Homo sapiens: one gene and its partner. The protein of the gene in region 1 purifies or fractionates together with the protein of each later gene. This does not show direct contact. Each region holds a gene or a part of one and is shown in the gene's direction. Other genes may lie near its edges.

Region 1 (3,750 bases):
GTTTTTTTAGACAGGGTCTTGCTCTGTTGACCAAGCTGGAGGACAGTGGTGAAATCACAGCTCACTGCAGTCTCAAACTCCTGAGCTGAAGGGATCCTCCTGCCTCAGTCTCAGGAGTAGCTGGGATTATAGGTGTAAGCCACTGTGCCCAGCTTGGTTGCTGGCTTTTAATATTGAAGTGACACTAAATCAAGGAATTGAGCTACCTAGGTCAAATGTTACCAAGGATTTTAGCTTGCTAAATGGATCAGAAATAAGTTGCTATTATATATGATTGATTTGTAAGACTAGTAGTTCTCATAACTGTAGGGTTCTTAAGAATCAACTGAGTGACTTGTTATGAATGCAGATTTCCTTGGGCCCAGTCCAGAGATTCTAATAGTGCAGTTGAGAATGGGTCTCAGGAATCTGCAGATTACAAGCACCCAGTTAATTTTGAGGCAAAAGCTTATGAACCTACTTTAAGAAACAGATTGTTTCTATGACCTCTTTAAATTTAATTCTTAGGACACTGTGTGTTTCATATGAACCATGTTTCAGTATACTGCATTCTGTATTGAGATTATGGAAATGCGTGGATAACATTTAAATGTGTGATTCCATTGACCAGTCATTGGGTGCAGGCTGACAGTGGGAAGGAGGTGTGACTTTGGGCAAGTAGGCTCCAGTAAGAGGACTTGGCTGAGAGCTGTCAGCAACCAGCACTCCCAGCAGCAGCAGTGGGGGCTATGAATGCCTTGGTCCTGAATGGGGAGTGCCAGGGAGATCTGGGCAGCATACTGCAACATCCACTACAGATGAAGCCATGGTTTTGAATATCGAGTGTATGAAAGAGTAATGGTATCAAATCATTTTATTATTACATATCTAGTGCCAGGTGACTTGTTAGGTGTGGAGGAATGGTAGAGAGAAGAAAATTGGGAAGGATTTTTGGTTTGGTGGAAAAGATGAGATTGGTTTTAGATCCGCTGAATTTGGCATTGAGGTAGAACTGCCCTGTAGATCATTGGAGATATGATAGTAAAGCTGAAATCTGAAATAAGGAATAGAGATGATGAGGAAATAATTAAAATGACAGTGGTAACAGTGATATTTAGCTGATAGGCTAGCTTTTAGTTTTATGCTGTAATTCAGGTACTCTGAATATTGTACTTTGCTAATGTAATGTAACAGTTTTGTTATAGTTATGAAGAACCAAGTAGTTAGCAAGAGTGACTGCCAAATCACTGTCATATATAAATATGTCCCCAATCTTTCTAGGTTCTGGGAAGTTCTGGATTGTTTAATAACCATGGACTCCAAGTACAGCAGCAACAGCAAAGGAATCTCTCACTACATGAATACATGAGTATGGAATTATTGCAAGAAGCTGGTGTCTCCGTTCCCAAAGGATATGTGGCAAAGTCACCAGATGAAGCTTATGCAATTGCCAAAAAATTAGGTACTAAATTAAGAAAAGCTTTTGCCACCTTGACATGAGAGCTCTGAGAAGATTTGAAGTTTGTTTTTGGTTTGATAACAACTTTTAGCTTTTTTTTAAAAAAAATACATTTTCTTTGCTTAAAATAGAAGGTAGAACTTTATTATTATTGAAATTCTAAAATTATTATTATTATTATTATTATGAGCACCCATAATGCCAGTGACGTGGGAGTCACTTACATTGGCATTAGGAAGCTGAAGTCCTGTTTTTAGTTGGAATATAATTATGGGGAAGGGAATTCTACTACTACCACTCTAACTACTCTGGAGCTTAAAGGATGGCAGTTGTGATGATTCTTCAGGGAAATGGTGAAGGAAAATCTTAGCTGTTTATGTGCTTATAAGGAGAGGTCCGTGCTTCCCCCTCCATTTTTTTGTCATGAAAAATATGGAACCAAAGGGGAACAAAAAGTAGAGTGCTAGAATGTAAACTCCTTGAGAGCAGAGTTTCTTTTTCTTTTCTTTTTTTTTTTTTTTTGAGACGGAGTTTCATTCTTATTGCCCAGGTTGGAGTGCAATGGTGCAATCCTGGCTCACTGCAACCTCCGCTTCCCGGGTTCAAGGGATTCTCCTGCCTCAGCCTCCCGAGTACCTGGTATTACAAGCACCACCACCATGTCCGGCTAATTTTTTTGTATTTTTAGTAGAGACGGGTTTTCACTATGTTGGCCAGGCTGGTCTTGAACTCCTGACCTCGTGATCTGCCCGCCTCCGCCTCCCAAAGTGCTGGGATTACAGGTGTGAGCCACCACATACAGCCCGAGTTTCTTTTTCTTATTTGTTCACTGATATATCCCAAAATCTTAGAAGAATGCCTGACACTTAGGTAATCAATAAATACTAAATGAATAAATATTAAATGAATTTAATAGTTGCCCATGTTTATTAGCAGATTCCTTTATTGATAACAGAAGCCTTAATAGCTTTTGTCAATTTGAATTAATCTCTTAATCAAAAAATAATTTTTGATTTCAGAAAATAAGCTTACATTTTTAAAGATTTAGCATGAAAACCATGAGCTGATGTACTAGCTATACACTGCAGTTTCTTTTTAGCAGTATTTTAAATCCCACCAATTTTACGTAGATTAGCATAAATAATCTCTCTTCTATGTACATTTAATTAATAGGCTTTAAATATGATTTGGTGAATACTTTGCTTTTATATTTTTTAAGAAAGATGAGCATTTTCAAAGTGATTGAAATTTTAAAAGTATTCATCTTGTGTAGTACTTATTTGTATCTAGAATGGATTTTTCTTTCAAAATTAAGGATATATACAAGTTCAGAAAACTGTCATATAAGCTATGTTTTTGAATGAGATGGCCATGATTTCCTTGACTTGGAAGCATGATTTTTCATTTATAGTTTTGTTGTTTTTATTGTTGTTAATCAGAAAGAATTATTTTAAATCAGATTACAAGCAAACTTTTTATTAAGCAAAAGCTTTGTATAAGTTCATACTAATTGTGGTGAAATTTTTGTTAATGGTGACCTATAATTGGAACTTCTGCATGGTTAATGTTAATGGGACCTGATTTATATATAATTACGTCGGTAAAAATGGTTTTCCTCTTGTTTCCAGATTTTAAAATTCCAAAAAAAAATTTTTTTTAGAGATAGGGTCACTATGTTGCCCAGGCTAGTCTGAAACTCCTGGGCTCAAGTGATCCTCCTACTTAGGCCTCTGAGTAGCTGGAACTACAGGCACATGCCACTGTGTCTATTTTTTGAGTATTATAATTGGTTTCTTTAACTAGTTTTCCGTATATTTTCTCATTTAGTGAAATTCCATTGTTTTGTCAGAAAAAATAATTTGCATAGAAACTTTTTCATAAAATGAATAGGATTAATTCAGATGCCAATCTGTTTTGATTATGCCTTATAAAAACTTAATGATTCTTAGGTACAGAAGAAAGAAATAATATGTGCAGGATAAACTGTAACTATGAGTATTTCTGGCAAGTTCTCTGGGACCAGAACTCACAAGTAATAAGAAGCAGGTAGGCAGCTCTGATTTTGAGCCCCTTGGAACAGATACCTTGTTCATTTAGAAAGTGTGTTTTTTGTCAAAGAATATTGCAAATGATGATTATAGTGTGGGAGGGAGACTAATAATTAACAAGGAAATTTAAATCTAGAGGAGCAGAAATGCTAGTTTTTAAAAGATAAATTTAGAAACGTCTATGAAAATATGGAGGACAATTTCGTGGTTTTTTTTTTTTTTTTTTTTTTGAGACGGAGTCTCACTCTGTCGCCCAGGCTGGAG
Region 2 (3,750 bases), on another chromosome or scaffold:
CAGCCTCCCAAAGTACTGGGATTACAGGCATGAGCTAATTTTTTTTTTTTTTTTTTTAAATTAAAGGAAGACATAGGCCAAGGAGCCAGACTTCCTGTGTTAACTCCTTCCTCTGCCACTTTTTACCTTGGGGACCTCAGGTAGGTACTTAAACCTTGGGCCTCAGTTGCTCATTTCATAGTATAGAAATAATAGCAATATTTGATTCAAAGGGTGGTTGTGTAGCTCCAGAAGTTAATACATGTAAAGTTCTAAGAATAGTCCCCAGTGTGTAGTAAGTACTTGATTAATGTTAAATACTAGTACTTTTTATTACTAGCTGCAAAAAAAATGCTTCCTCAGAAAATATTATAGTCCTGTGTCTGGTAGGAATTTCTGAAAGAATAAGATATGTAGATGCACTTTTGTTATTAATATTTCTTTTTTTTTTTTGATGGAGTCTCACTGTCGCCCAGGCTGCAGTGCAGTGGCCTGATCTCGGCTCACTGCAGGCTCTGCCTCCCTGGTTCATGCCATTCTCCCGCCTCAGCCTCCTGAGTAGCTGGGACTACAGGTGCCAGCCACCACGCCTGGCTAATTTTGTTTTTGTATTTTTAGTAGAGATGGGGTTTCACCGCGTTAGCCAGGATGGTCTGGATCTCCTGACCTTGTGATCCACCTGCCTCAGCCTCCCAAAGTCCTGGCATTACAGGCGTGAGCCACTGCGCCCGGCCTAATATTTCTATATTTTAATTTTTTTACTTAAAATTTTCTTTTTTTTTGGTGGAGGGGGGGACAGAGTCTCGGTTTGTCGCCCAGGCTGGAGTGCAGTGGTGCTATCTTGGCTCACTGCAAGCTTCACCTCCCAGGTTCACGCCATTCTCCAGCCTTAGCCTCCCAAGTAGCTGGGACTACGGGCGCCCACCACCACGTCCGGCTAATTTTTTGTATTTTTAGTAGAGACGGGATTTCACCGTGTTAGCCAGGATGGTCTCCATCTCCTGACCTCGTGATCCGCCCACCTCGGCCTCCCAAAGTGCTGGGATTACAGGCGTGAGCCACTGCGCCTGGCCACTTAAAATTTTCTGTGGATATTTCCTTTTTTAACTGGAATCAGGAAGTTAGGTTTGTTTTTTGATTTTTGAGATGGGGTCTCACTCTGGCTCAGGCTGGGTGCACTGGTGCGATCACATCTCATTGCAGCCTCCACCTCCTGGGCTGAAGAGATCCTCCCACCTCAGCCCCACCCCCGCAGTGGTTGGGACTACAGGTGTGTGCCACCACGACCTGCTAATTTTTAAACCTTTTTTTGTAGAGATGGAGTCTTACTATGTTGCCCAGGCTGGAAGTTAGATTTCTGTGTTTGAGTTATGTTTATCTTTAGAAAGTCATCATTATCCGCTCCTTTGGAAGATTTGTTCTTTGATTTCTATGATTACTTTTGCATGGTTCTAATTCAGAATCTCTGATGATTTTTTTTTTAATTCTAATTGTGATTGATTTTTGGCCAGAATACATCAGAGGTGATCTTACATACTTCAAATTGCATACCATTAGGAGAGATATACCAGATGGCTGGTGATTGTTACTTCCCTTTGACCAAAATGTTATGTTTACTTTGGTTCATTCTCCATCAGTCATTTAGTGGATGGTTTTAAAACCAATACATAATTCTTGGCTGGATGAGTAAATTTCTACAGGTATTGTAAAGTGATGATTTTCTGTTTTTTTTGTTGTTGTTGTTTGTTTGTTTTGTGTAAAAATGTAGTAGTCTATACGTTAAGAGAAACTTCTGGGAACAAACTAGAAATGATCCCTGGAAGTATAGTCTTAATTTCTCTTGTCTTTTCATTCCTTTTACATTTGTTTCATTGTTACATCAAATTGTATCTTTTTTTCCCCCTGGCTTTTTCTTTCTTAAACATCATCCTAAAGTTGTGTATATTTAGCGTGTTCTAGAATCAGCTGCACTTTTTGATGCCAGTGGATACCCCTTCAGGTCATTCTTGTCTCATTTTGGCTGACATCATTGATCTTGGAAAGTTTTCCTGCACTGCAGGCTTGTATCTTCCTCCCAGACTTGGAATTGACCATTTCTCCAAGGAGCTCTGGTTCCTTTTATTGGAGAATGGTATTAGAGACAAGATCAAGGGTGTGCTCATTGCCCAGGGGTAACATTGTTTTAAGGCCATTTTAAATTGCAGAGCATTTAAAAAATACATTTTTAATGTATTTTTAAAAATCATGAGTCCATATTCGTATTTCTAATTCACTTTAAATGGTATAGTATTTTTACCTAATTTCTTAGCTCCTAGTTCTTTTTTTTAATTTAATTTTATTTTATTTTTGAGACGGAGTCTTGCTCTGTCGCCCAGGCTGGAGTGCAGTGGCACGATCTCAGCTCACTGCAATCTCCGCCTCCTGGGTTCAAGTGATTCTCCTGCTTCAGCCTCCCGAGTAGCTGGGACTACAGGTGCATGCCACCACGCCCAGCTAAGTTTTTGTATTTTTAGTAGAGATGGGGTTTCACCGTGTTAGCCAGGATGGTCTCGATCTCCTAACCTCAGGTGATCTGCCCACCTTGGCCTCCCAAAGCGCTGGGATTACAGGCGTGAGCCACGGCGCCCGGCCTCCTAGTTGTATTTTATAGTAAAAAATATGAAACAAGTTATAAGTACTTATTTTGTTTGCTTTATCCTGCAATATAAAGAAAATGGTTTCAGTAACAATGCTGATACTAGTAGTAACCATAAACATACTGTATCATGTTAAAAAATTCTTTCTTTAATATATGTAACTATTTTTGTTCTTAAAATGCATCTTTTTTTTTTTTTTGAGATGTTGTCTTACTCTTTTGCCCAGGGCAGAGTGCAGTGGTGTGATCTTGGCTCACTTGCAACATCTGCCTCCCCAGTTCCAGCGATTCTCCTGCCTCAGCCTCCTGAGTAGCTGGGATTACAGGTGCCCACCATGACGCCTAGCTAATTTTTGTATTTCTAGTAGAGACAGCGTTTCACCATGTTGGCCAGGCTGGTCTCGAACTCCTGACTTCCTACTCGTCTTGGCCTCCCAAAGTGCTGGGATTTCAGGCATGAGCCACTGAGCCCAGCTTTTAAAATGCATCTCACTAAAGATGTATGTAGTCAAAGAACTCTGTTCTAAAGTCATTTGAAATCGTTTTTCTGAGGAATTATGTTACTAAATTAACATACAGTTGGGTTCATTTGTTGTTTTCAGGTTAAGGGACTGCTTTTTTTTTTTTTTTTTTTTTTGAGACGGAGTCTCACTCTGTCCCCTAGGCTGGAGTGCAGTGGCGCAATCTCGGCTCACTGCAAGCTCCGCCTCCCGGGTTCACGCCATTCTTCTGCCTCAGCCTCCCGAGTAGCTGGGACTATAGGTGTCAGCCACCACGCCCGGCTAATTTTTTGTATTTTTAGTAGAGACGAGGTTTCACCATGTTAGCCAGGATGATCTTGATCTCCTGACCTCGTGATCCACCCGCATCAGCCTCCCAAAGTACTGGGATTACAGGCTTGAGCCACCGTGCCTGGCCAAGGCACTACTTTTTAAAAAATGAATTTGATTACTATTGAAGTAAGTAATGCATTTCTGTGATTCAACAAAGATCTATCTCACAGAGATATCTCATTCTGCTCCCTTCCCCCAGTCACATTCTTCTTTGTCTTATGTAAACATGTCTTGTTTTTTTTTGTTTGCTTCTTGTTTATCCTTCAAGTGGGTTTTTTGTTTTTTGTTCTGTCACTATTATAT

Evidence for each region.
Region 2: the proteins of SUCLA2 (region 1) and ZNF146 purify together in Homo sapiens (affinity purification with mass spectrometry; 2 studies listed by BioGRID and IntAct, with this or other methods). This does not show direct contact.

What each region holds. Positions count from the first base shown.
Region 1 is NC_000013.11:47,994,534-47,998,283, reverse strand, and holds part of SUCLA2 (succinate--CoA ligase [ADP-forming] subunit beta, mitochondrial precursor), read left to right. Parts: intron 1-1,260; coding exon 1,261-1,441; intron 1,442-3,750. UniProt on the Homo sapiens protein: ATP-specific succinyl-CoA synthetase functions in the citric acid cycle (TCA), coupling the hydrolysis of succinyl-CoA to the synthesis of ATP and thus represents the only step of substrate-level phosphorylation in the TCA.
Region 2 is NC_000019.10:36,218,056-36,221,805, forward strand, and holds part of ZNF146 (zinc finger protein OZF), read left to right. Parts: intron 1-66; 5' UTR 67-140; intron 141-3,750.